4 linked regions of the Homo sapiens genome follow. The protein of the gene in region 3 interacts with the protein of the main gene of each other region in a pairwise test. Each region holds a gene or a part of one and is shown on either strand. Other genes may lie near its edges. The genes, in order: CFL2, ZBTB8A, EHHADH and DES.

Region 1 (6,887 bases), on a different chromosome or scaffold from region 3:
TTAGGAAGGATATGTCAGAGTTAGGAAGGCATGTCGGTAGAAAGGTACATTTTGAAGTGGTAGTGTCTTTATGCTTACATTTGTCTTTGTCAGGAAGTGGCTGTGGGAGCTGAGAATGTGATGTCTCTTGACAGGGAGTAGGGCTTACACACAGTTTGTCTGCATAATCTTCCAGATTCACTGTTTTAGATAGTTCTTTCAAACTTTTACATGCCACAGAACCTCCATCCACATTGTTTCTCAGGTGTGGTGGCTCATGCCTGTAATTCCAGCACTTTAGGAGGCCAAGGCGGGAGGACTGCTTGAGCCCAGAAGTTGAGACCAGCCTGGGCAACATAGTAAGACCCCCATCTCTGTAAGTGAGTAAGTAAATATATACATAATAGATTGTTTCTTGGGGGAATAGATTATATATATTAAGGGATGATCACCTTTCCAATTTTTTAAAGAATCCTGAGTAAACAAACTTTAGCTGAGTCTTCAGAATCAATGAGGATTGGGACGGCTTCACGCTATTGCCTATGAGTTGATAAAATCAGTGCCTTCATCTTCACTCTGCTGGTGGTAATAACAGCTCCAGGGTTCCTATTTCTGTGCTGGACAAGGGCTTTACATACATTATCTCTCTTGATCCTCCCCATAATCCTGAGAGGGAAGAGGTCATATAATCCCTATTTTACACATGATTTGGAAACTGAGCCTTATGGCAGCTAAATCAATGGCCTGAAATTGCACCGCTACTAGTGTCTGAGCTGAGATTACATTCAGAGGTTACTCTCACTAAGTTCCTAATAGTTGTCACTGCCATCTATGTGTGGTCTAGTAAATGGATAATTATAGCTTAGATGTTTACAGCACAAAAGTATCTAGTACCACATTGTTCGGGGTCCCTCTGTCACACCTATTAATTGTTTGCTTGAGCTTGAAATTGCTCAGAACAGTTGTATGGTAGGCAGAATAATGCAACCCCTCCTCACAAAGGTGTTCCTGTCCTAACCTCCAAAGTCTTTGAATGTTAACTTGTACGAAAAAACAGACTTTGCAGATGTGATTAAGTTAAGGATCTTGAGAGGGGGAATTATCCTAAACTACCAAGTGGGGTCCAAAGTAACCATAATGGTCCTTATAAGTGGAAGACGGAGGCAGGAGAGAGAGAGTCAGAGGAAATGTGATGACTGAGGCAGAGGTCAGAGTGATGCGACTGCTGCCTGGGGCCACAGGCCAAAGATGATGGGCAGGTCGAGTGTGGTGGCTCGCACCTGTAATCCCAGCACTTTGGGAGGCCAAGGTGGGCGGATCACAAGGTCAGGAGATCAAGACCATCCTCGCTAACACGGTGAAACCCCATCTCTACTAAAAATACAAAAAATTAGCCGGGCATGGTGGCGGGTGCCTGTAGTCCCAGCTACTCAGGAGGCTAAGGCAGGAGAATGGTGTGAACCCAGGAGGCGGAGTTTGCAGTGAGCCGAGATAGCACCACTGCACTCCAGCCTGGGTGACAGAGTGAGACTCCATCTCAAAAAAAAAAAAAAAAAATGATGGGCAGCCTCTAGATGTTGGAAAAGGCAAAGGAGTCTCCCACTACAGTCTCTTGACTTTAGCCCCATCAGGCTTATTTCTGCTAGTTGTGGTGGTTCATGCCTGTAATCCCAACTACTCGGGAGGCTGAGGCAGGAGGCTCACTTGAGGCCAGGAGTATGAGGCTGCAGTGAGCTATGATCACATCCTGCACTCCAGCAACCTGGGTGGGCAACAGAACCAGAGACTATCTCTTAAATATATATATATAGAGAGAGAGACTTGTTTCTCTGACTCTGTAAGACCATAAATAATAAATTTGTGTTGTTTTAAACAAGTAATTTTATGGTAATTTGTTATAGCAACAGTCGAACGCTAATACATGTGGTATCTGACACTCAGATCCCCCTCCACTACACAGTGACCAAAATTCATGCAGCAATGATTGGCAATGCTGCCCCTTTACCAAGTGGTGGTAAGTTCTGGTTATAACTCACAGAGGTGAAGGCAGGAAGCTGCTACTGGCCCTGACATTCTCAGTGCCATGCTCACAAGGGCATGTAGAAAGGCTTCACAATTTTCAGAAGCTTCCTTTTCATTCTCTTTACAGCACTAAAGCATCTTAAATGTATTATTTCAGCACCTATTAAGCACCTACTATCTGTCAGGTTCCAGAAATTCAAAGATAACCAGGACTCAGATCCTTAAGGAGCTTACAGCGCAGTAGGGTGGCAGAAGACATAAACAAGTTATTATAATGTAACAAAATATATGCAAGACAAAAATAACTTCAGGAAAAGAATCTTAGAACATGTGAATTACCATCTCTGTTTGGGGAGGGTAAGAGAGAATGGGAGGCATGGAAAGGGGTTGGAGTCCGAGCTAGGGGGTGACTAGCATCTTTGGAATCCCCAGCTTTGGTGGGTAAGGTTCTGACACCCACTTTAGGCCCCAGTGTCATCAGACCTGGTCTCTGCTGGGGCTGCTGCAAATCTCTGAGGTTGGGAAGGGAAGGTAACCGCAAGATGAAGCGAACAGGAATTTGCTAATACCTACACATAGCAGATGATCAGAGCTCTGGAGAGACATTCTCCATGACTTCTTGGAAGTTCAACAGATAAAGTGAAAGGTTCCATAAATTGTAATGTACCAGCTAGATATAAAGTATTATCCACTTGCTTGGGATTCATGCTTAGACATTGGGAAATCCCTTCTCAATTTTTGTCTCTAAACGAAGTCTATCTTCCAATTAAGAAAACAAACCCAAGATATAGACAGAAAAATAGGTCTGTTTCAATGCCTAGCATGTTCCATTTAAAATACAGTAAATTTGGGCTGAAAGAACTTATCACGCAATCTAGGGCAAACACCATCTCATGACTTTCCTGCCTAACCTCAATCCTGAGACCACCAAAAACACACCATTTCCTACTGAACATTGATATACTCAGAAACTGAAATCTAAAGCTGGAAAGGGCCTTAACGATAATTTAATAACAGTTTGTTTTACACATGAAGAACCCTGAGGTATGGAGGAGTTAAGATTAAAAAAAGAGAAACTGCCTTGGCGCAGTTATATGGGCTTTGCTAGAAGAGGCTGCGTCGGCTTATTTGATATCAGCTGTCATAGCTGGAGCTTCATGAAATCTCTAAGAGAGAGTACAATCCATTTCCTATGAAGTCTAAAATGTAAAAGGATATTACTAAGGAATGCTACCACGTAATTTTTTAATCATAATTATTATTTCAACCAGAGTTTTGAAAAGTGATTTACCAACACTGCGTATCATTTTGTTTTTGCTAAGTACTATCAACTGGAGCAATCTCGTGTAGTATTTATTCTCATTTATCTCTAAACAACTGGGGGTTTTCCAAAAAGACTCAAAATGTCGAAATCCAGCCTCTTTCGGGAAAACCACAGGTAAATAAGGAAAGACACCTTCGCAGGAGTTCCCCTCACACGCACCCACCCCTGGCGCAGGGCCCTACGGAGGCGGTGGAAACGCCCCTCTGGGAGCCCAGCACTCTCTCCCACCGGCTTGACGGGTGATGCTCGGGGGCTGGAGGCGGCTCTGCCAGGCTCCCGGGCTCCGCTACCACCGCGTCGCCCCCCCCGGCCTGCAGGGCTCGCGCTCTGAGGTCAGGCCGAGGACGCGGACAGCCGGGGAGCCGGGGCCGCGAGACAGAAGGGCCGGCCTGGGAGCGGGTGGCGCCGGCTGGGGACCAGGCGTGCCCACGTGACCGCCCCGCCCGCTGCCTGCGGCCCGCCGAGCCCCGCCACCTCCCTCGGGCTGCAGCTCCCGGCGTGCCCCGCACTCTCCGCTGCCCACCCGCTCGCCCGCCCCTCCTTCTCCTCCCAGTGCCACAGAGCCGAAGCCCGAGCTGCCGCCGCAGCCACAGCCGAGGGCACTATGGTAAGACGAGCGCGCTGGCCGGGAGGCCGCGGCGAGGCGAGAAAAGCCCCCCGCACGGCCCCGGGAGTGAGGCCGCCATTTTAACCTGATTTTGGCCTCCAAGGTGGGCGCTTCTGCTCTGCGGCTCCGCTGCTCTCCAGCCGACCGGCCTGCCCTCCGGCCGTCAGGCCCTGCCCTGCTGCTCTTTGGATTTTGGGGGGCGGGGAGGGCCCGGGCGTCGGCGCAGGTTGGGGGTCGGGGCCGGGCGGGCGGGGGCGCGAGAGGGTCTGCGGACTGCAGCCGCTCGCGCCGCCTTTGCCCTTCGCTTCCTAATTTTACTTAACACGCGAGGCTTTAAAATTGGTACGTGCTGCGAACGCTGTGTGGGTCAGGGTCTGGACGGCCTGTAATAAAACCCTTACGGGGAGATTAAGGAAGAGGGAAAACACTTTTTAAAATGCTTTCTCGCCGTAAAAGCTTTTACACTCGATCAGTTAGTTTTGGAGTGTCTGCATGTGAGCTGTGTGTGGGCCGTGGGCGGTTTGGAGTTTACACTTGATTCTCTTTCCTTATGAGGAAACGTCAGTGGCTAGGATGACTTTAAAGAAAAAAATAGTAGAAGCATTAACTGAAATCCAAAAGTGTTTTTTTAAGGCCAGCCGAGTTGACACAATACAGAAGGTATTTTTGCTGCCACTCCTGAAGCTCTGACATCACCCAGTGAAATAGGAAACATTTCAGGGATGGGACAACTTGTATTTGTCCCTTTCGCTTCCACGTCCAAACCCCTTTAAGAAGGATGAATGGGCAGGATGAGTTAGACTCCTTCGCTGTATCGTCTACTGATTCTTAAAATGTGACAAATCTGATTGGACGACTTACATGGTACGGTGCAATTTTTGATGTCCAGACTAAAGTGAGTCTTCTCTAGGCAAACAGTAATTTTGGTTAAAACCAAAATACGTGTTCTGAATTACTGTTCTGTGTTTATTTTCAGGCTTCTGGAGTTACAGTGAATGATGAAGTCATCAAAGTTTTTAATGATATGAAAGTAAGGAAATCTTCTACACAAGAGGAGATCAAAAAGAGAAAGAAAGCAGTTCTCTTCTGTTTAAGCGATGACAAAAGACAAATAATTGTAGAGGAAGCAAAGCAGATCTTGGTGGGTGACATTGGTGATACTGTAGAGGACCCCTACACATCTTTTGTGAAGTTGCTACCTCTGAATGATTGCCGATATGCTTTGTACGATGCCACATACGAAACAAAAGAGTCTAAGAAAGAAGACCTAGTATTTATATTCTGGTGTGTAAAAACAAAAGAAAAAAGTACTTTTAAAATGCAAGGATTATTATTATCATAGTCAGTCTTACCTTTGTTTTTCTTATAAATGGGATTCAATAATTTTTTTTTTTTCTGTAGGGCTCCTGAAAGTGCACCTTTAAAAAGCAAGATGATTTATGCTAGCTCTAAAGATGCCATTAAAAAGAAATTTACAGGTACAAACTTGAATATTTGGGGCAGAGAAATTATTCTTTATTAATTATAATAAAGTAATAGGATAATGTTTTTTCTTTTTAGGTATTAAACATGAGTGGCAAGTAAATGGCTTGGATGATATTAAGGACCGTTCGACACTTGGAGAGAAATTGGGAGGCAATGTAGTAGTTTCACTTGAAGGAAAACCATTATAAAATGACAGTCAAGTGCCATCTGGATCTTAAGGAGCTTCCATTTCTCCAGCTCAGTCCATTGGAATAGTATTAGGTTTTGGTTTTTTGTTGTATTTCCCCCTTTCCACTGGGCCCTTCCAACACAATGAATGAAGGAAATATCATTTATTTAAGCAGCCTATCAGTGATTGCCATTAGACTGTTGAATACTGTTACTTTTATATAGAACCCAAGGAATGCCTTCCTGTCATATTTTAGCCAAAACAACTGGTTATATGCCTCCCTTGCAGCAAGCACTACAATGTATGTGATCGTCAATGTGAATAGCTTAGAATACTGCAAAGGATAAGCTAATTGAATGCCTTGAAAGTATTATCCACTGGTCAGATGGTCAACTTTTTTCAGTATTATTTATAGTTGGCACTTGATTGCAGTTCTGTGAGGCTTGAGCATTCATACACCTCACCTGCCTTGGCAAGCCTATTTTAGTGATATGGCAGCACGGATATAACACTATGCATTAAAAGCACTTTTTGTAATAAGTTTAATATCCTAAAAGGAATGCCAATTAAGTTTTGTTAACTGTGTCATCAACTTATCCTAGTACCTCAGTGTTCATTCCTGTTACCTGCATATCTTCTTAAAAGAAATAGCTGTTATTAATGCCTTTTTGTTTTCCATTGAGTGTACACTACTGAATAAGTGTAGGAGTTTTATGTTTACCATGTGAGTCCTGCAACACTAAAGATATTTTGAATATCAGTCATGATGGCAATTTCTGTATAAAAGAGCCTTAAATGGAACATTGTTTTGAGATCAAACTCCCCACCCTCACAAAAATGGCCACGTTGCAATAAAAATTGTGGCATATTACAGAACGTTGCCTTGTTTTCCTTGGAAATTTTGCAAAATGTTATGTGAAACAACTTCTAGGGTAAAAACAGCTATTACTAATCTCTGCACTGGTCATTTGAGAATTTTTTTTGTACAGCATTCATGTGTGATATTTTCCAGATTTGTTGGATCTATTTGGTTTAAAAAGTATTCTATCTTAAGGCCAACTAATATAAAATACCATTGTTAAAGAATGGTACTTTTATAAACATTAGTGTATTTATTTCCTATGTGTTAATATGAAGATCAGAAATTATTTTTTGCACTTTGGCATAAATACTTTTCAATATCTGATTTGTTCTCTGGATAAATTAGCATAGTTATTTTTTTATTCACATTTACATTTCTAAGTAGTTGTATAGTAGAAGCAGGAAGCTCTTATTGCTTATTTGGTCGTAATGAAAATAAT
Region 2 (7,025 bases), on a different chromosome or scaffold from region 3:
AAAATACAAAAATTAGCACACAGTGGCAGGCACCTGTAATCACAACTACTCGGGAGGCTGAAGCAGGAGAATCACTTGAACCTGGGAGGCAGAGGTTGCAGTAAACCGAGATTGCGCCACTGCACTCTAGCCTGGGCGACAGAGCAAGACTCCGTCTCAAAAAAAGAGAGTTGATCTTCTCAACGACAACCTTAGTTCAAGTTACACTCGCTACTTAAATCTTCAGTCTACTCATAGAAATACATGTCATTGGCTTCTATTCCAAAGACTTTCGAACTTAATGGTTCCTAAAATGTGTAATTGTCTTTCCCAACCACCTTTTTAAAGATCATTGAACTTGATGGAAATCTTGAATTCTGTTATATTCTTGGGACTATTATAATATTTAACTCTTACAGATATTTAAAATGTTTCCATTTGGATTTTGGATGTCCCATATAAATTGATCTAACTTGCTGTTTCAACGTATAAAGTCACTCTACTGAAAGAAGAAAATCTGAAATGCATTACCGATTTCCATGACCTAATCACATAATTCTGAAAATAACTTAAACCTTTTTTGATGACTCAAGAGTACTACTATGAATGCATGTTATGTTAAAATCCTTTCAATGTGAATATCAGGTTGTAACTGACCCCAGTGTATAGGACAATTCCTATTTTTTTTTTAGATATAACTTTTTTTGAGACGGAGTTTCACTCTTGTTGCCCAGGCTGGAGTGCAATGGTGTGATCTGGGCTCACTGCAACCTCCGCCTCCCAGGGTCAAGCAATTCTCCTACCTCAGCCTCTCAAGCAGCTGGGATTACAGGCACCTGCCACCATGCCCGGCTAATTTTTTGTATTTTTAGTAGAGACGGGGTTTCACCATGTTGGTCAGGCTGGTCTCAAACTCCTGACCTCAGGTGATCCACCCGCCTCAGCTTCCCAAAGTGCTGGGATTACAGGTGTGAGCCACTGCGCCTGGCCTGAGATATAACTCTTACGCCATAAAATTTACCCATTTTAAAGTGTACAATTCAGTTTTTTGATATGGTCACAAAATTGTGCAACCATCATGACCCTCTTAACTCCAGAACATTTTCATCATTTGCATAAAGAAACCCCATGCCTGTTAACAGTCACTCCTATTCCCATGTCTCCCTAGCTCCTGATAACCCCTCATCTACTTCCTATGTGGATCTACCCATTCTGGGCATTTCATGTGAATAAAATCATAAATAAAATATGTATTTTTTATGACTAGTTTCTGTAACTTAGCATCAGGTTTTTTGTTTTTTAGACAAAGTCTCGTTCTGTCACCCAGGCTGGAGTGCAATGGCGCGATCTCGGCTCACTGCAAGCTCCGCCTCCTGGGTTCACGCCATTCTCCTGCCTCAGCCTCCCGAGTAGCTGGGATTACAGGCACCTGCCACCATGCCCGGCTAATTTTTTGTATTTTTAGTAGAGACAGGGTTTCACCGTGTTCGCCAGGATGGTCTCGGTCTCCTGACCTCATGATCCGCCCGCCTCGGCCTCCCAAGGTGCTGGGATTACAGGCATGAGCCACCACACCCAGACTTGTTTGTTTTTTAGAGACAGGATCTCACTGTCACCCATACTGGATTGTGGTGGCGTAATCCTGGCTCACTACATCCTTGACCTCCTGGGCTCAACCAGTCCTCTGCCTCAGTCTCCCAAGTAGCTGGGACTACAGGCTCACGCCACCGTTCCCAGCCAGCATGAGGTTTTTAAGGTTCACCCATGTTGTAGTATATACAGTCATATGTCACTTAATGATGGGGATATGTTCTGAGAAATGTGTTGTTAGGTGATTTTTGTTGTTGTGTGAACATCATAGAATGTACTTACACAAACCTGGCTGATATAGCCTACTACACGCCTAGGCTGTATGGTATAGCCTATGGCTCCTAGGCTACAATCCTGTATAGCATAATACTATAGGCATTTGTAAAACAATGGTAAGTATTTGTGTATCTAAACATATCTAAACACAGGAAAGCTGGGCACAGTGGCTCACGCCTGTAATCCCAGCACTTTGGGAGCCCAAGGTGGGTGGATCACCGAGGTCAGGAGTTCAAGACAAGCCTGGCCAACATGGCAAAACCCCGTCTCCACTAAAAGTACAAAAATTAGCCAGGCATGGCGGTGGGTGCCTGTAATCCCGGCTACTCAGGAGGCTGAGGCAGGAGAACTGCTTTAACCCAGGAGGCGAAGGTTGCAGTGACCTGAGATGGTGCTACTGCACTCCAGCCTGGGGGATAGAGCAAGACTTTGTCTACAAAAATAAATAAACAAATAAATAAACACAGGAAAGGTACAATAAAAATATGGTATTATAATCTTATGGGACCACCGTCGTATATGTAGTCAGTTGTTGACCAAAATGTTATGCGGCGCGTGACCATATCAGTACTTCATTCTTTTTATGGCCGAGTTACATTCCATTGTATGGGTATACCACATTTTGTTTACCCACCTGTCCGTCAGTGGACATTTGGATTGTTTCCACCTCTTAGCTGTTGCAAATAATGCTATTATAAACATTCGTGTATCAGTTTCTGTGTAGACGTATGTGTTCATTACTCTTGAATATATACCTAGGAGTGAAATTGCTGGGTCATATGATAACTCCATGTTTAATCATTTGAGGAACTCCCAGACTGTTTTCCAAAGTCGCTGTACCATTTTATATTTCCACCAGCAGTGTGTGAAGGTTCTTACTTATCTATACTCTGGCCAACACTTAGTATTTTCATGTTTTTTAAAAAATTATTATATCTCTGGAAAAACATGGAAAAAAAAGAAAATATAGAAAAAGAAGAAGAAAAAAATTTTAAAAAATTATTGTAGCAAACTATCCTAGTGGGTGTGAGGTAGTATCTCATTGTGATTTTGATTTGCATTTCTCTAATGATTAATGATGCTAAACATCTCTTCATGTGCTTATTTCTATTTGTCTTATTTAATCTTATTTATTTTAGCGATTATCTTATTTAATCCTCTTAACAGACTTCCTTAGAGCCTCTAAACAGTCAATAACCTCATTTTACAAAAAGGAAACGAATGCTTAGAGTTAAGTAACTTGACAAAGTCACACAGCTAATGATTGGTAGACCTATAATCCTGTGTTTCTTCTTTTTAAAATCCTTCAGAAGTGCCTCAGAACCCCCAAAACTGGAGGGGCTTCCAAGATCTAGCTCTTACATACTTTTCTAGTTTCATCTTCTGCCATCCTTCTGTAGGCCCACAGTCTCTAGCTATAGCAAACTTCTTACCATCCCCTAGGAGGCCATGCTGTTTAATACGCTGTTTTTGCCTTCCCATTTGGTGCTCTCTCTGGCTAGAACGCCTTTTGCCCTCTTTCTCATGTATAAACTTCTTTTCATCCTTCAAGACCCAACCTAAACGTTGAGCCTTTTGGAAATGTTTCTCAATACTACCAGGTACAATCATTTGCTTTCTTTGTTTTACAGTTCCCTTCTACTATGAGTATTTTCTTCATTGTATTGTCACTTTGTCTAGAAGTCTCTTCTCTTCCTGTCTCTTCTCTGACTCTCTCTCTCTCCTACTAGACAGTGAGCTGCTTGAAAGTGAGCACTGACCTTTGACATTTCATCACCTCTATATTCTCAGGACCAGGTATAGTCTGGTATAGAGTAGTTGCTCAATAAATATGTCTTGAATAAAATGCGTTTCACCTGCCAATTTGAGTATCTGCCCTTCTCATAAAAATAGAGTAAAAGGGCCACATACAGTGGCTCACACGTGTAATCCCAGCACTTTGGGAGGCCAAGGCGGGCAGATCACTTGAGGCCAGGAGTTTGAGACCAGCCTGGCCAACATGGCGAAACCCTGTCTCTGTTAAAAATATAATAATTAGCCAGGTGTGGTGGTGCGTGCCTGTAATCCCAGCTACTCAGGAGGCTGAGGCATGAGAATCACTTGAACCCAGGAGTGGCAGGTTGCAGTGAGCCAAGATCATGCCACTGCACTCCAGCCTGGGTAACAGAGTGAGACTCTGTCTCAAAAAAAAAAATAAATAAATAAATAAAAGATTTTTCTGTTAAAATATAGAAAGAGCCAGACATGGTGGTACACTGTTATAGTCCCACCTATGTGGGAGACTGAAGCAGGATCACTTGAGCCCCGGAGGCCAAGGCTGCAGTGAGCCAAGATCGTACCACTGCACTCCAGGCTGGTGGGACCTTGTCTCAAGAATTTAAAAAAGGAAAATATACTTCTGTGGAGTTCAGAACAATGTAAAATTAATGATTGTATCAAAAGATGAAGTTGTTTTCTTTCGGCTGTTTTTCTGACCCTTCAGAAAACCTCCATTGCTTTGAATCCTGTGGCTCTCAGCAGCATGTGAAACACGGAGGGCATAGCGGATGCCTTATATCACCTTCAGTTCCCTCTGTCTCCCTGGCGCTGTTGGACTAGGTCCAACATAAAATTCTTACAGTTCCAGAATATCTGGGGGAAGTTTTTTGTTTTTGTTTTTGAGACAGGGTCTTGCCCTGTTGCCCAGGCTGGAGTGCAGTGGCACAATCACAGCTCACTGCAGCCTCAGCCTCTCAGGCTCAAGTGATCCTCCCACCTCAGCCTACTGAGTAGCTGGGACCACAGGCATATACTACCACACACCTGGCTAATTTTTTAATTATTTGTAGAGATGAGGTCTCGCCATGTTGCCCAGGCTGGTCTCGAACTCCTGGGCTCAAGTGATCCTCCTGCCTGGGCCTTCCAAAGTGCTAGGATTATAGATATGAGCTACCATGCCCGGCTGGGGGAAGTTTTATTCCAAAATCTGCAATGTATTTTTCATCACCAGAAGATACCTCAGCAAACCAAACTAAGCCATAATTTTATCCATGACTTTTTAAATATATACATTAGAGTAGTATTCTAAGTATAAACAAATTTTCTTTTCTTTCTTTTTTTTTTTTTTTAGTAGAGATGGAGTCTTGCCCTGTTGCCCAGGCTAGAGTGCAGTGGCATGAGCATTGCTCACTGCAGCCTCGAACTCCTGGGCTCAAGGGATCTTCCCTCCTGCCTTAGCCTCCTGAGTAGCTGGGACTACAGGTTCGAGCCACTGTACTCAGCAACATTAAAACATAAACTTTTAGGTTGCAAATCTTATTTTAGGTTATAGATCTCATTCTCAGGCCACTGCACTCCAGCCTGAGTGACAGAGCAAGTCTGTATCTCAAAAAAAAAAAAAAAAAGAAAGAAAAAAAGGCAAAAATGGTTTCTCAAGAATAATTTGGCACACACTTGTATTCAGAAGGCTGAGGTGGGAGGATCACCTGAGCCCGGGGAGGTCAAGGCTGCAGTGAGCTGTGATCTCACCACTGCACTCCAGCCTGAGCAACAGAGAAAGATTCTGTCTAAAACAAAAAACAAACAAAGCAAAAAAAAAAAAAAAAAAAAAAAGACCAGGCGCAGTGGCTCACACTTGTAATCCCAGCACTTTGGGAGGCCGAGGCAGGTGGATCATGAGGTCAGGAGTTCGAGACCAGCCTGGTCAAAACAGTGAAACCCCCATCTCTACTAAAAATGCAAGAATTAGCTGGGCATGGTGGCCGGCACCTGTAATCCCAGCTACTTAGGAGGCTGAGACAGTAGAATCACTTGAACCCGGGAGGTAGAGGTTGCAGTGAGCCGAGATTGCACCACTGCACTCCAGCTTGGGCGACAGAGCTAGACTCCGTCTCAAATTAAAAAAAAAAAAAAAAAAAAAAAAAGAATAATCCTTCCTTAAGGTGAGGTCTGCAATTGACTAGTTGGAGTCGAGGGTTGCTATTCCCAGGTACACATGTAGTTTTGAAATGATCGCTCTCACTCTCTCTAGGTACATGAATATGATGAAACCAGTCAAAAAACATTTTTTTTTTCTGTATCCACATTTTTTGTTTTTGTTTTTGTTTTTGTTTTGAGACAGAGTCTCACTCAGCCGCCCAGGCTGGAGTGGAGTGGTGCAATCTCGGCTCACTGCAACCACCGTCTCCAGGGTTCAAGCGATTCTCCCGTCTCAGCCTCCTAAGTAGCTGGGATTACAGGCACCCGCCATCATGCCCGGCTAATTTTTGTATTTTAGTAGAGATGGGGTTTTGCCATGTTGGCCAGGCTGGTCTTGAACTCCTGACCTCAGGTGATAAACCCGCCTCAGCTTCCCAAAGTGCTAGGATTACAGGCGTGAGCCTCCTTTCTGTATCCCCATTTGTATAAGACAAGAAAATGTGTGGCAATAAAACTCTAAAATGTTTACATTTTGTACTCATTGAAAGCAGTGTTTTTAAATGTTTAGATAATTAATAATAATAATAATAGCTGACATTTATCAAGGGCTTGTTATAAGCCAGGCACTGTTATAAGCACGTTTCTTGGATTAGCTTCTAATATTCTCCATCTCGCAGCTCTGTAAGCTATAGGTATTATTATTGTCCCTGTATTAGTCCATGCTCTCATTGATAAAAAGAAATACCTGGCCGGGGCCAGGCACCGTGGCTCATGCCTGTAATCCCAGCACTTTGGGAGGCTGAGGCAGGCCGATCATGAGGTCAGGAGTTTGAGACCAGCCTAGCCAATATGGTGAAACTTCATCTCTACTGAAAATACAAAAATTAGCCGGGTATGGTGGCCCGCACCTGTAGTCCTAGCTACTCCAGAGGCAGAGACAGAATCGCTTGAACCCGGGAGGCAGAGGTTGCCATGAGCCGAGATCACGTCACTGCACTGCAACCTGGAGGGCAGAGTCAGACTCTGTCTCAAAACAAAACAAAACAAAACACCTCGCTGGGTGCTGTGGCTCATGCCTGTAATCCCAGCACTTTGGGAGGCCGAGGCGGGCGGATCACCTGAGGTCAGTAGTTCGAGACCAGCCTGGTCAACATGGTGAAACCCTGTCTCTACTAAAAATATAAAAATTAGCCACGCATGGTGGGATGTTCCTGTAATCCCGGCTACTTGGGGGGCTGAGGCAGGAGAATCGCTTGAACCCAAGAGGTAGAGGTTGCGGTGAG
Region 3 (7,025 bases):
TGGGGTTTGTAGTCAAATTGCCTAAGTTTAAATCCCTATTCTACCAGTTATTAGTCATATGTCTGAAGTAGTCACTTGTCTCAAAGCATTAACTTCCTTACCTGTAAAATGGGAATTGTTATGCTGCTTAACTTAGGTGTTATGAAAATTAAATGACACAGTATATGAAACTGCTTAGCACAGTGCTTGATGCATTTATCCAATAATTGTTCATTTCTGTTATTATCTAAAAAACTATCTCAATCTAAAGCTACAGGAATGATAGGCTTGAGACTTGGATTGAAATTGATCTTGTTTCTCTAGAACCAAAAGGAATTGAAAACACGAAACAAAACACTGGACTAGAGAGTGAAATATAATGAATTGGTGAGAAAAAAGCTTAACTCCTGGATTGATGCTAGATGAGGAACAGGTAGCAAAAAGGGAAAAAAAGATGAATAGGCTAGATATAAAATAATTAATTTTTAAAACTTGTACCAAGCTTAGTGTTTTCAAAGAATAGATAATGCTGTAGGAAAAAGCTTACTATGTATAATGTTATATGAAAACAGGAAAATATAAAAATGATTTTATGGTATGCTCTAAATCAGCTGTCCTCAACCTTTTTGGTACCAGGGACTGGTTTCATGGAAGACAGTTTTTCCATGGACAGGGGTAGTGGGTGGGGGTGCAGGCCTGGGAGGGTGGGGGGGCAGGGATTGTTTTGGGATGAAACTGTTCCACCTCAGATCATCAGGCATTAGATTCTCATAAGGAGAGCGCAACCTAGATCCCTCACTTGTGCAGTTCACAATAGGGTTCACGCTCCTGTGAGAATCTAATGCCGCTACTGATCTGACAGAAGGCAGAGCTCAGGTTGTAATGCTCGCTCACACATGTGGAAAAAAACTAAGAACTCCTCAAAATATTAAATTATGGCTATATAGTGATATTTAGGGTGATCTTCATGTTCTTTTTAATTTTGCGTGGTTTTCAAATTTTCCATAATACATGTTATTTTTATAATCAGGAAAAGCAATAAATATTATTTTTATTGAAGATAAAAATCTATTACAAAAACATAATTCTAAGCTGCTTGATTAACATATAACTCATAAATATGTATACATGTTACCCTGATATTTTATATTGTGATGACTCATGCCCTTAACAAAGATATGGAGCTAAGTTGCTGTGAATAGACTTGATTAACAGTATCACACATACAAAAATGAGAGGGGCTGACTCAATCTCAGAATAATGATCTTTGGAGGAGAGTCCCTATTCCCCTTTTCTGAGATTTTTAATTTTTTTAAATATAGACTTACTACTTATTATATGGAAAGATAGATTTTAGAAAATTACAGAATTCCTGGTAAAGATTCAAGGATTTTCTCTCATAGCATTCTACATTCTCCAATATACTTGTTTTCAGCCAAGGATGAAGTGTAAGGGCCCAAAGAGGTCTGAGACTTTAGTCATCAGGAACTCTAAAAAAAATTAAGAAATAAATAAAACAAATTAATTTTTTAAAGAGTATCAGGTAACTTACTGTTATATAACAATGCCCATGTATTTCTCAACTCTGTTTTCTCCTTGTCTTTGTGCCCTTAGGTGCTGATATTCGTGGCTTCAGTGCTCCTAGGACATTTGGCCTTACACTGGGACATGTAGTAGATGAAATACAGAGAAATGAGAAGCCCGTGGTGGCAGCAATCCAAGGCATGGCTTTCGGAGGGGGACTAGAGCTGGCCCTGGGCTGTCACTATAGGATTGCCCACGCAGAGGTAACAACCAAGGCTCTATATAGTGGCTGGTGTGTGGGGCTTTTCTTTAGGGCAAACTCTAAATGTAGTCATAAGTATCAGCGGTGATTATTTTATTTATTTGTTTTTTTGAGATGGAGTCTCACTCTGTCTTCCAGGCTGGAGTGCAGTGGTGTGATCTCGGCTCACTGCAACCTCCACCTCCCGAGTTCAAGCAATTCTCCTTCCTCAGCCTCCCAAGAAGCTGGGACTACAGGCATGCTACCATGCCCAGCAAATTTTTGTATTTTTAGTAGAGACGGGGTTTCACCATGTTGGCCAGGCTGGTCTCAAACTCCTGACCTCAGGTGACCACCCACCTTGGCTTCCCAAAGTGCTGGGATTACAGGCATGAGCCACTGCACCCGGCCCAGAGGTGATAATTTTGAATGGTTAGCTTACTGGTTAACGACTTCAGCTGTTACGTGCCAGTACAGTGGTACTAATTGTTAAAATGTTCAAATACTTCACTTCCATTCTGGTAAGTAAACACCTGCTACTCTGAGCCCTAGTTTCCCTTGTTTCCCTTAACCTTAGCCCTAGGGCCTCTCTATGATCCATCAACTACAGGGGAACTCCTTGTTTCCCTTAACCTTAGCCCTAGGGCCTCTCTATGATCTTGTTTCCCTTAACCTTAGCCCTAGGGCCTCTCTCTGATCCATCAGCTACAGGGGAACTCCTTGTTTCCCTTAACCTTAGCCCTAGGGCCTCTCTATGATCTTGTTTCCCTTAACCTTAGCCCTAGGGCCTCTCTCTGATCCATCAGCTACAGGGGAACTCCTGAGTCAATAGAGAGCCCCGAGACTCTACCTCCAGTACTATGACCCATATCAGGTTTCACTGATGCAGTGCTCATGCAGTATGAGTATTAAATATGTTGGCTGTCACTTCTAAGTATACATTTAAATACTTCTTTGATAACTCAAAGATTTCTGTTTCATGGTCCCTTATAATTATCAGTACCTAATAAGACAAATTTCTATTGGAAAATAGCACAAAACTAGTAAATATGGGGAAATTTCTGGAAATAGGTTTAATTTAGGCTGTTAGACATGTCAGATGAGGTCTGTGATACCACTGTGTATCACAGTATATATAATGGTGGCATTTTTGTAATTAATATATTTTTCTAATGATGAAAATAATATTCATTCTACTAAACTAGAGAACATAAGAAAGTATACAGATGTAAACTAAAATCATCATAAACTCACAGTTCAGAAATAACCACTATTAACATTCTATTTCATTCTAGTCTTTTTTTGTATGTAATTTTTTCTTACAGATTCTTTTTCCTTTGAAAAATGTCCTTTAAAAAAAAGTACATTGGCTGGGCATGGTGGCTCATGCCTGTAATCCCAGCACTTTGGGAGGCCGAGGCAGGCAGATCACAAAGTCAGGAGATCGAGACCATCCTGGCCAACATGATGAAACCCCGTCTCTACTAAAAATACAAAAATTAGCTGGGCATGCTGGCAGGCGCCTGTAATCCCAGCTACTCGGGAGGCTGAGGCAGGAGAATCACTTGAACCTGGAAGGTGGAGGTTGCAGTAAGCTGAGATCGTGCCACTGCACTCCAGCCTGGTGACAGAGCGGGTCTCCATCTCAAAACAAACAACAACAAAAAAAACCACATTTGGGCTTTTTTTGTATTTAGTTTATACTCTATTTTTATACTATAATATTTAACCCATAATTAAATATTCTTTATTCTGCCAATCTCTGTCTTTTAATTAGAGAACTTAATACACTTATATTTAATGTAATTACTGATAAGGAAGAACATCTGCCATTTTGCTATTTGTTTTCTATGCTTTTTGGTTTTTTTGTTCAATTCCTCCATTACTGCTTTCATTTGTGTTAAATGTAAAAGTATACCCTTGTAACTTTCTTGCTGTTTCTTTTACTATATATATTTTTAGTTATTTTCTTAATGGTGGTTAACTTGGTGATTACAATTAACATCTTAATTTATGACAATGTAGTTCAGATTAATACTGACTGAATTTTAATAATATACAAAAAATTTGCTCCTCTGTAGCCTCCATTACTTGCCCCTTTATGCTATTATTGTCACAAGTTATATCTTCATACATTATGTACTGCTTAACATAGATTTATCATTGTTGCTTTACATAGTGGTCCTAAATCAGATAAGAAAAAGAGGAATTACAAATGAAAAATACATTATTACTGTCTTTTATATTTACCCATGAAGTTACTCTTTATCAGTGTTCTTTATTTCTTCATGTGAATTCAAGTTACTGTCTAGTGCCTTTTCATTACAGCCTGAAGTATTTCTTATAGGGCAAATATACTAACAACAAAATCAGTTTTTCTTTATCTGGAAATGTGTTAATTTTGCCTTCATTTTCAAAAGATAGTTTTGTTGGATATAGAATTCTTGATTGACAGTTGTTTTCTTTTGGCACTTTGTGTATGTTATTTCATGCCTTCTGGCCTCTGTGGCTGAGGAGAAATCATGTTACTCTTCTGGTAAATATTCTTTAAAAATATCATTATAGGCCAAGAACAGTGGCTCACGCCTGTAATCCCAGCACTTTGGGAGGCCAAGGCAGGCGGATCACCTGAGGTCAGGAGTTCAAGACCAGCCTGACCAACATGGAGAAATCCCGCCTCTACTAAAAATACAAAATTAGCTGGGCGTGGTAGCACATGCCTGTAATCCCAGCTACTTGGGAGGCTGAGGCAGGAGAATCACTTGAACCCAGGAGACGGAGGTTGCAGTGAGCCGAGATCGCACCATTGCACTCCAGCCTGGGCAACAAGAGCTAAACTCTGTCTCAAAAAAAAGAAAAAAAATCATTATAAGTGGCGGCATAATATTCAATCATATGGCTATACCAGAATTTATTTAACCATTTCCCAATGGTGTTTTAATTTTTATAAATGCTTACAAATAAATACACATATATGTCCTAAGTGCTCCTTTTCTGTGTCCCTCTTACCACAACCTGTACCCTGAGTGCAGATCTGAGTTACTAGCAATAAGTAAAGAGGTAGAGATGGGCAGTGATGGAAAGAATGGTGATTGACTGTTAGGAAAACCTCATGTAAGACAGGCCTCACATATGTGAGGTATTTTGGAACTGCTAGAATCACGATCTGGGTAAATGGCAGTCCGCATTTAAGTACCCTCCTCTCACCCTTATACCTGTAAATGGCTAACAGATCCTCAGCCACTTTTAAATGGAATGGGCCAAGAAAGGCAATAAAATAAAGGACTCAAGCTCCCCTTCTTGTCTGGACTGAGATTACTGTCTGACTTTAAAAAAAAAAAATAGCCTTTTGGAGATGTAATTTAAATACCATACAATTCATTCATTTAAAGTGTGCAATTCAATGGTATATGAGTATATTCTCAGAGTTGTGCAACCATTATCACAGTAAATTTTAGAACATTTTATCACCCCAAAAAGAAACCTTGTATCCTGTAGCAGTAATCCTCCATCACCTTCTGCTATCCTAAGCACCTACTAATCTACTTTCTGTCTCTATAGATTTGCCTATTCTGGATATTTCATATAAACAGAATCATACAATATGTGGTCTCCTGTGACTGGCTTTTTTTGTTTAGCATGTTTTGCCTATTCTGGATATTTCATATAAACAGAATCATACGATATGTGGTCTCCTGTGACTGGCTTTTTTTGTTTATCATGTTTTGCCTATTCTGGATATTTCATATAAACAGAATCATATGATATGTGGTCTCCTGTGACTGGCTTTTTTTGTTTATCATGTTTTGCCTATTCTGGATATTTCATATAAACAGAATCATATGATATGTGGTCTCCTGTGACTGGCTTTTTTTGTTTATCATGTTTTGCCTATTCTGGATATTTCATATAAACAGAATCATATGATATGTGGTCTCCTGTGACTGGCTTTTTTTGTTTATCATGTTTTGCCTATTCTGGATATTTCATATAAACAGAATCATATGATATGTGGTCTCCTGTGACTGGCTTTTTTTGTTTATCATGTTTTGCCTATTCTGGATATTTCATATAAACAGAATCATATGATATGTGGTCTCCTGTGACTGGCTTTTTTTGTTTATCATGTTTTGCCTATTCTGGATATTTCATATAAACAGAATCATATGATATGTGGTCTCCTGTGACTGGCTTTTTTTGTTTATCATGTTTTGCCTATTCTGGATATTTCATATAAACAGAATCATATGATATGTGGTCTCCTGTGACTGGCTTTTTTTGTTTATCATGTTTTGCCTATTCTGGATATTTCATATAAACAGAATCATATGATATGTGGTCTCCTGTGACTGGCTTTTTTTGTTTATCATGTTTTGCCTATTCTGGATATTTCATATAAACAGAATCATACGATATGTGGTCTCCTGTGACTGGCTTTTTTTGTTTATCATGTTTTGCCTATTCTGGATATTTCATATAAACAGAATCATATGATATGTGGTCTCCTGTGACTGGCTTTTTTTGTTTATCATGTTTTGCCTATTCTGGATATTTCATATAAACAGAATCATATGATATGTGGTCTCCTGTGACTGGCTTTTTTTGTTTATCATGTTTTGCCTATTCTGGATATTTCATATAAACAGAATCATACGATATGTGGTCTCCTGTGACTGGCTTTTTTTGTTTAGCATGTTTTGCCTATTCTGGATATTTCATATAAACAGAATCATATGATATGTGGTCTCCTGTGACTGGCTTTTTTTGTTTAGCATGTTTTCAATGTTCATCCACGTTGTAGCATGAATCAGTTCTTTATTGATTTTGCTGAATAATATTCCATTGTATGGATGTACTACCTTTCATTTATCCACTAATCATTGATGGACATTTGGGTTGCTTCTACTTTTTTGGCTTTTATGAACCATGGTGCCATGAAAATCTGTATACAGGATTTTTGTGGGCATATGTTTTCATTTCTCTTGGGTATATACCCAGGAATGGATTTGATGGGTCATATGGTAACTCTATGTTTAACATTTAAGAAGCTGCCAGATTGTTTTCCAAAGTGTCTACTCTGTTTTATATTCCCACTAGCAATGTATGAGGATTCTGTATTCTCCATATCCTCTCCAACACCTGTTATTGTCTGTCGTTTTTTAAATAGCCATCTTAGTGGGTATAAAGTGTTACCTTGTGGTTTTGATTTGTATTCCTCTGATGGCTAATGATGTTGAGCATCTTTTCAAGTGCTTACTGGCCATTTGTATCTCTTCTTTGG
Region 4 (7,875 bases), on a different chromosome or scaffold from region 3:
TCCTCCAATTCCCGCATCTGCCTCATCAGGGAATCGTTCTGCAGGAGAGGGGGAACCCAGGTCAAGGAAGGGAAGAGGACACTAGCAGCCCAAAGAAAGCTTTGGGGCTGGCAGGCAACTCCAGATGGTCAGGTCCAGGCCATGTTGAACCCTGAACTCAAATTAAGTCTATATGTGAACACTCAGAATAAAATAGATACAAAGGAACATTGCATTCAGCCTCACAGTCCCCACATAGGTAGATGCCCAGGAACCCCTGATTCCTTAGCATCCAACTGGAATCCACTTGTCTGGTTTTACCCCTATTGTAGATTTAAGTAGATGAAGGCCCAGAGAGGATCTATGATGGGCCCAAGGTCACAAAGTGAGGGTGTGAACTGCAGACAGGAAGGGGCAGGGCCTGGCCAGGTGGGCAGGGACTCACAGTGCCCTTCAGGGCGTCAATCTCGCAGGTGTAGGACTGGATCTGGTGTCGGTATTCCATCATCTCCTGCTTGGCCTGGCGCAGGGCGTCGTTGTTCTTGTTGGCTGCCTGGGTCAGGTCTGACACCTAAGGGCAGAGAAAGGGGCCCAAAAATGAGAAGGATGCAGGGCACGGGTAGGGATGAGCAAGGGAGCATGAAGCCTCTGGGCTCTCCTCCCATGGATGGTACCACAGGCAGCACATCCAAGCTGGGATTCAGGGGGACGGAGATGCCAGTCCCCGGGCGAGGCCACCCACCTTCGACTTGTACCACTCCTCAGCTTCAGAAATGTTCTTAGCCGCGATGGTCTCATACTGAGCCCGGATGTCCCTGAGGGCGGCAGTGAGGTCTGGCTTAGACATGTCCATCTCCACCTGGACCTGCTGTTCCTGAAGCTGAGCCTGCAACTCACGGATCTCCTGTAGGGCATGACTGGGCTTCAGTCCCCTCTCAGGGCCCACACAGCACCCTCACACCCCTATTCCCAGCCAGAGCCTCACCCCAACCCCACTTTCCGGCTGCTTTCCCCATGGCCCAGTGACCCCAGGAAGAGGGGCCAAGGTATACCTCTTCATGCACTTTCTTAAGGAACGCGATCTCCTCGTTGAGAGATTCAATTCTGCGCTCCAGGTCAATGCGAGCTAGAGTAGCTGCATCCACGTCCTGGGAGAGGCCAAGCGAGAAGGACATGGTCACCGCCACCCAGGTGGGGCAGAGCAAGGCCAGAGGCCATGCAAGGGGAAAAGAAGGGCACTCACCGCTCGGAAGGCAGCCAAATTGTTCTCTGCTTCTTCCTTCAACTGAATCTCCTCCTGCAGCCTGGGTGGGACAGACAGAAAGACAGACAGTTGCGGGTGATAAAGCTGGCAGTGGAAACGACTGGCCGGGGGCTGACCAGGGGGTGGGTCCAGGACAGAGCGGGAGGGCCTGGCTGCTGGGTAGAGGCAGGAGAGACAGGGAGTGGAGAGGCCCCACCCACCCAGGGAGGGCACAGGAAGTGGCCCAATCTCTGCCCAGGAGCCACACCCTTGAAGTCTATGTCCCCACCAGACTGTGTGACCTCCCTGGGGTTAGAAACTGTGTCTATTTTATCCACCTCTGTGTTTCTGGTTCCCAGCTCCAGCCTGGCCAATATAGCTGCTCAATTAATATTTATGACTTTGGTGGCAGGAGGGTGACTGTGCTCACTTGGCCTGTCAGAAGTGGGACCAACAAATATGCTACACTTGCTGCCCTTTTCGTTCTTGGAGCCTGGTGAAGTCTACAGTCAGGTCCTCCCAAGCTCTCTGAGAGCTGTGACCCCCACCTACTCCCTTTTTCTCCAGCCTGTCCATTCACCTTGTAAAAAGACACAGTCTCGGCAAGGCCCCAGGGCCAAGCTCCCCCCTCCCCCCACCTCCCCCAGGGCCTCATCACAGCTGAGCTGAGAGCTGTTGCTTGGACTCTGGGCCCTTGCCCTGCTTTCCCTGTCTCCTATCAGCCTCCCTTCTCCCTCTGGCTACACTGCCCTCTGGGCCTCCTGCAGCCCTTCCTCTGCCCATCAACTACCTGACCCCATAAATATCGCCCCAGCATCTTAAAATGCTTTTTAACGGGGCTGTCCACAGGGCACCGGGTCCCCTAAATTCTCCCATATCCACCCCCTGATCTATGTCCCCAAGAAAACTCCTGTGCAAGATGGGATCGCAGGGGGAGAGACCTGGAGGTCACGGCCCCTTGAAACACACAGGTGGAGGACCCTTTCTCCACATGGGGCAGGAGAGGGTCCCGGGCCCCGGGAGAAGGCAGGTGCTGACAGCGGGACCCCAGACCCCAGGCCTAGCCTCCTGTGCCCTGCCCGCAGAAAGAGGAGTCTGGGGTGCCGGGCCCTCACTTGGCCTTGAGCCGCTGCAGGTCGTCGAGCAGGTTGTCGCGCTCGACGTCGACGCGCGCGCGCTGGTTAGTGAGCACCTCCACCTGGCGCCGCAGCTCCCGCAGCTCCTCCTCGTAGAGCTCGGCCACTCGCGTCGGCTCGCGGCCCTTGAGCCGGTTCACTTCGGCGGCGAGCGCCGCGTTCTGCTGCTCCAGGAAGCGCACCTTCTCGATGTAGTTGGCGAAGCGGTCATTGAGCTCCTGCAGCTCCACCTTCTCGTTGGTGCGCGTGGTCAGAAACTCCTGGTTCACCGCGTCGGCCAGTGAGAAGTCCAGCAGCTCGCCTGCGCCGTAGGAGGAGGGCGTGCGGGTGGTCCCCAGCCGGCTGGCCCGCAGCGACCCCAGGCCCCCGGCCCCGCCCGACGTGCGCGACACCTGGTACACGCGGGACGTCACCGAGCTGGAGGAGCCCTTAGAGCCGAAACCCGCCCGCGGGAACACGGGCGAACTCAGCGGGGAGCCGAGTGGGAAGCCCGGGGCCCCGCCGAAGGTGCGGCGGTAGGAGGACACGCGCTGGCTGGACGAGTAGGCCTGGCTCATGGTGACGGCGCGGGCGAGGCTGGCGGGCGCACGGAGGAGGCGGCGGGCAGGCGGCCGGCCGGAGAGTGGATGCGGCGAGGGGAGACAGGGCCCCCAGCCGTCGGCACTATTTGTATCCCTCCTGACATCAGCCCCCGCCTCCCCTCCCCTGACAGCTGCAAGATCCCGCTGTCCTGCCAGGAAAGGGCGGCCCGTGGCCGTGGGGGCGGGGAGGCCAGCTCCCCCGCAAGAGGCCTGCGCCCCTGAGTCAGCCAGCGGGGGTCCTGTGACGGGCAAGCCTGCCAATCCTTCGCCAGGGCAGGCAGCAAGCATGTCTGCAGCCCCCAGGCGGGCCTCTTTCAGCCCTGGTTATCTCCTCGTCCTGGGGTGGGGGGGAGTGGGGTCAGGGGAGACAGCAGAAGAGAGGCTTCCCTTTAGTTTGAGGGTCCCCTTTTTGGTCAAGGAGAGACTTTGGGTCATTTCTTAAAGGGTCAAGGCCTGTTCCCAGGAAAGGCCCTAAACCACCTTGTTCCTAAATATTCTCTTGAAGTCGAAGAGGTTTGGGTCTCAGGCAAAGACCAGCCAGGCTTGAGGGTGGGGGTCTCTAGGCAGGAAGGGAGGGCAGGGAGACGCCTGGCAGGCGGAGGGATCCTGGCCAAAGCCTGCCTGCCATGTATGTCTATGGGCGAGCTAGCCCTGAGCCTCAGTTTCCCTCTGGACTAGTGCAGGCCCTCTTCCTCCCCGGTACTGTCGAGGGTGGGGCCTCAAGTTTATAAACAGTGGGCTGATTTCCAGAAAGGGTCTGATAAGCTTTCAGTTTCCAATTGCTATGTGCGCTCCCACCCCCGCACAGACTTTGTGTGGCTCCTGCCCCCTGGGTCCCCCGCCCCCTCCCTGATTCATCCCCCTACTCACACCACCCACGCCCACACACACCAGGGGTTTGTGTTTTGTCAGGAGCCGCATGTCAACCCAACCATCTCCCTGGCAGCAACAGCTGCCAACCCCAAATACCAGAGCGGGTATTTATAGAGGAGAACGCATGGCTGGGAAACAAGGCACAGGAGAGGAGCTGTGGGGGGCAGGGGGTACCTGAGGAGGCATGGGTGGGCGTCAGATAAGGAAGGCTAGGGTGACAGCCCCAATCACTTCCCACCCCCTATAATGCTCCAGCCCCCACCCCCACAAAAATGGAGCCCCACAGAGGGCCTGCCCAACCTCCAAAGCCCCCTCCTTAGCACACGGCACTTGCTAACCCCTAAGGACATCCACCATTCTCCATGGGTACTGGCCGTGCCTCTACACCTCCACTTGGCACTCCAGGTCCCTCTTGGACCTGACCCTTTTGGAATGCAAACCCTGAAAATAGAGTGCTCGATTAGGAGCCAGTCACTGGTCCTACCCTAGACCTGCCATCACCAGCTGGAGGGGTTACTAGTAGGTGTGTCCTTGTCTGAGCCCCAGCTCAGGCACGTCCTCTCTGAGCCCCAGCTTGTCAGATATAAAGTGAGGATGGTTAGCCTTGCCATGCTACCCTATAAAGGTTTAAAGAGGCCCAGGCCCTACTAATGTATGTAGCAACAATAATACCTTACATGTACTGACCACCTAGTGTGGGCCAAGCTGCTGAGCACTTCACACCCATGACCCCCAATTCTCCAACCCTAGGAGGTAGACACTAGCATCATTCCCATTTTATAGCTCAGGAAGCTGAGACAGTGAGACCTCACAGCCTGTGGCTTTGGCCTCAGGATGGGTGTGAATGTGCCGGGTAAATTGTAAAGGGGGCTTTGTTACTGCACTCTTTTCAAAGCCCTTTCCCATTAAGTGTCTAATTTTCATCCAAGAGACAAGCTTCTGAAATAGATGGGGGAGTTCCAGATATTCTTATCCAGCCCTCGAGTCAGTGCAAGCTGTTGTGTTCTGGTTATTTTTGTGTCTCATCTCCCAGACTAGACTGTATGCTCCTGGAGGATTTTGGAGACCATGTGGATCCTTAACACACTCAGGCAGCACCGTCTTTCTCATTGTCATTCAAAGTAGCCTGCAAGCTTTCTTTTGCAATTTCCTTATTTTGATGACATGCTGTGCCTCCTCCCCATCCCTCCACCCCTAAAGACCCTGATTCCAGCCAGTCTTATTACTGCATCTCCCTGACTTCAGTGACTGGGTCAAGGAATGGGCCTGGGAATGAGCAGGGCCAATCAGAGACCTTCCCTGGAATTTATAGACGGAACTGGGATTCTTCAACTGGAACCTGTGGAAGCCATGTTTCCTGCCCCCTGGGGGAGTAGGAAGAAAGAGAGGTCAATATGTAAGAAGCAGAGGAGGCTGGAGAGGAGGAGCAGGCCAGCCCCTTGGTTCCTGCAGTGCTTCCCTCAACTTTGTGAGTTGAGCTCCCACACTGTCCTTCCTGGCCTTGGGCCAACAAACTTTCCGTTTTTTTTTTTTTTTTTTTTTTTAATTTAAGGCACTTGGTATTGCTTTGATCACTTACAGCCCAAAGAACCAGATTAATCTTCCTGAAGGGGACTCTACACCTATTTCTATGATGCTACTGGGACAACATTTCTGGAGCTCTTCTCTGTGAATGATCTCCAGACCACATAAGGAAATTGGCCTTTGGACCAGCCCAAGTCCTCAGTTCCTTGGTGAAAAGAGGCAGAAGACAAATAAATCATGCCATCTATTCTCTAGTCAAAATCAACAACCACCAGACTTGGCCCCGAACCACTTGGGACTGTTTTCAAAATTCAGTTCCACCCCTGAGGATTTGCTACCATGGAGGGCTGCAAATCAACACCCCGAGGCTTGGAAGGCAGGTGAAAGAGGAGCACTCCAAAACATGCTGTGAGCTGGGCAGCACCGCTGGAGGGAGAGTTCAGCCTCCCGAGAGGACCACTCAGGATGGGACACACTAAAAATACCGACAATTTATTTGGATGGGTAGTGTATATGGTACAAAATTCAAGATGTGCAAAAAGGCATAAAATGAAAAGTAAGTCTCCTTCCCACTTTGACACCCAGCCACCCCAAACACTGCTTCAGAGACAACCAGGTTTTGGTTGTTATCGGTTCCTTTCAGAGATACTTCATGTACACACAACCACATTTTCTTATGTGGAGCCCCCACTTCTGAATCAATCTTTTTTCAATGACATACAGCTTAGAGATGGTTCCATTTTAGTACATTGACAGCTGAGTCACTTTTACATTGTGATAAAATATACATAAAATAAAATTCACCATTTGAGCCATTTTTTAAGTATACAGTTCAGTGGCGTCAAGTACATTCACATTGTTGTACAACTATCCCCACCATCCATCTGCAGAACTTTTTCATTGTCCCAAGCTGAAACTCCATATGTATTAAAAATAACCCTCCACCTTCCCCTCCTCCCAGCCCCTGGTAAACATCATTCTACTTTCCGTTTCTACGAATTTGACTCTAGGTACTTCATGCAAGTGGAATCATACCATATTTGTCCTTTTGTGACTGGCTTACTTCCCTTAGCATAACGTCTTCAAGGTTCATCCATGTTGTGACATGGGTCAGAATTTCCTTTCTTTTTAAGGCTAAATAATATTCCATTGTATGTATACACCACACTTTGTTTATCTGTTGATGAATATTTGGGTTGTTTCCAACTTTTGGTTATTGTGAATAATGTCGCTATGAACTTTGGTGTACAAATATCTGTTCAAATACTTATGTTCAGTTCTTTTCTGTAGATACTCAGAAGTGGAACTGCTATGTTATATGGTAATGCTATGTCTAAATTTTTGAGGAACTGCCATGCTGTTTTCCGCAGCAGCTGCACTGTTTTACATTGCTACCAGCAGTGAACATGGGTTCCAATTTCTCCACATCCTGGCTAACACTTGCTATTTTCTATTTGTTTATTTGTTTTATAATATTAATAGTAGCCTTCCTAATGGATGTGAGGTGGTACCTCATTGTGGTTTGTTTGTTTTGTTTTGTTTTTTAGAGACAGGGCCTCTGTCACGCAGGCTGGAGTGCAATGGCACGATCATCACTCACTGCAGCCTCAAATTCCTGGACTGAAGTGATCCTCCTGCCTCAGCCTCCCAAGTACCTAGGACTACAGGTGCAAGCCACCATACCTGGCTAGTTTTTTTACTTTTCCATAGAGATGAGGTCTCCAAACCTATGTTGCCCAGGCTGGTCTCAAATTCCTGGGGTCAAGTGATGTTTCCACCTCAGCCTCTCACAGTGCTGGGATTATAGTTGTAAGCCTCCACACCCAGCCTTATTTCATTTTTTAAAGATAGGGTCTCACTCTGTTGCCCAGGCTGGAGTGCAATGGCATGATCATACCTCACTGAGGACTTAAACTCCTGGTCTCAAGCGATCTTCCTGCCTCAGTCTCCTAAAGTGCTGGGATTATGGAAGCAAGCCACCACACCTGGCTGCTCATTGTGGTTTTGATTTGCGTTTCCCTAATGATCAGTGATGTTGAGCATCTTTTCATGCGCTTACTGGTAATCTGTATATCTTCTTTGGCAAAATGTCTTCAAATCCTTTGCCCATTTTTGAATTGGGTTGTTTGGGGATTTTTTGTTGTTGAGTTGCAGGAGTTCTTTATATACTCTGGATATTAATCCCTTATCAGATATATGATTTGCAAATATTTTCTCCCATTCTGTGGTTTGCCTTTTCACTCTGTTGATAATGTCCTTTGATGAACAAAAGTTTGTAATTGTGATCAAGTCCTATTTATCTATTTTTTATTTTATTGCCTATGCTTTTGGTGTCATATTCAATAAATCATCGCCAAATCCAATGTCATGAAGATTTTCCTCTTTGTTTTCTTCTAAGAATTTTATATTTTAGCTCTTATGTTTAGGTATCATGTCTGTTTGTTGTTGTTGTTGTTGTTGAAACAGGGTCTTGCTCTGTTACCCAGGCTGGATTACAGTGGTGCCATCATAGCTCACTGCAACCTCAAACTCCTGGGAT

The links.
Region 1: the proteins of EHHADH (region 3) and CFL2 interact in binary tests that used the Homo sapiens proteins (3 or more experiments, as listed by UniProt).
Region 2: the proteins of EHHADH (region 3) and ZBTB8A interact in binary tests that used the Homo sapiens proteins (3 or more experiments, as listed by UniProt).
Region 4: the proteins of EHHADH (region 3) and DES interact in binary tests that used the Homo sapiens proteins (3 or more experiments, as listed by UniProt).

The regions. Positions count from the first base shown.
Region 1 is NC_000014.9:34,711,583-34,718,469, reverse strand, and holds the start of CFL2 (cofilin-2), read left to right. Parts: upstream 1-3,876; 5' UTR 3,877-3,929; coding exon 3,930-3,932; exon of another isoform or gene 3,933-4,035; intron 4,036-4,674; exon of another isoform or gene 4,675-4,793; coding exon of another isoform or gene 4,794-4,796; intron 4,797-4,908; coding exon 4,909-5,216; intron 5,217-5,333; coding exon 5,334-5,410; intron 5,411-5,492; coding exon 5,493-5,605; 3' UTR 5,606-6,887. UniProt on the Homo sapiens protein: Controls reversibly actin polymerization and depolymerization in a pH-sensitive manner. Its F-actin depolymerization activity is regulated by association with CSPR3. It has the ability to bind G- and F-actin in a 1:1 ratio of cofilin to actin.
Region 2 is NC_000001.11:32,542,416-32,549,440, forward strand, and holds part of ZBTB8A (zinc finger and BTB domain-containing protein 8A), read left to right. Parts: intron 1-7,025. UniProt on the Homo sapiens protein: May be involved in transcriptional regulation.
Region 3 is NC_000003.12:185,230,031-185,237,055, reverse strand, and holds part of EHHADH (peroxisomal bifunctional enzyme), read left to right. Parts: intron 1-1,593; coding exon 1,594-1,766; intron 1,767-7,025. UniProt on the Homo sapiens protein: Peroxisomal trifunctional enzyme possessing 2-enoyl-CoA hydratase, 3-hydroxyacyl-CoA dehydrogenase, and delta 3, delta 2-enoyl-CoA isomerase activities. Catalyzes two of the four reactions of the long chain fatty acids peroxisomal beta-oxidation pathway.
Region 4 is NC_000002.12:219,413,503-219,421,377, reverse strand, and holds the start of DES (desmin), read right to left. Parts: upstream 3,002-7,875; 5' UTR 2,916-3,001; coding exon 2,338-2,915; intron 1,284-2,337; coding exon 1,223-1,283; intron 1,128-1,222; coding exon 1,032-1,127; intron 884-1,031; coding exon 722-883; intron 551-721; coding exon 425-550; intron 39-424; coding exon 1-38. UniProt on the Homo sapiens protein: Muscle-specific type III intermediate filament essential for proper muscular structure and function.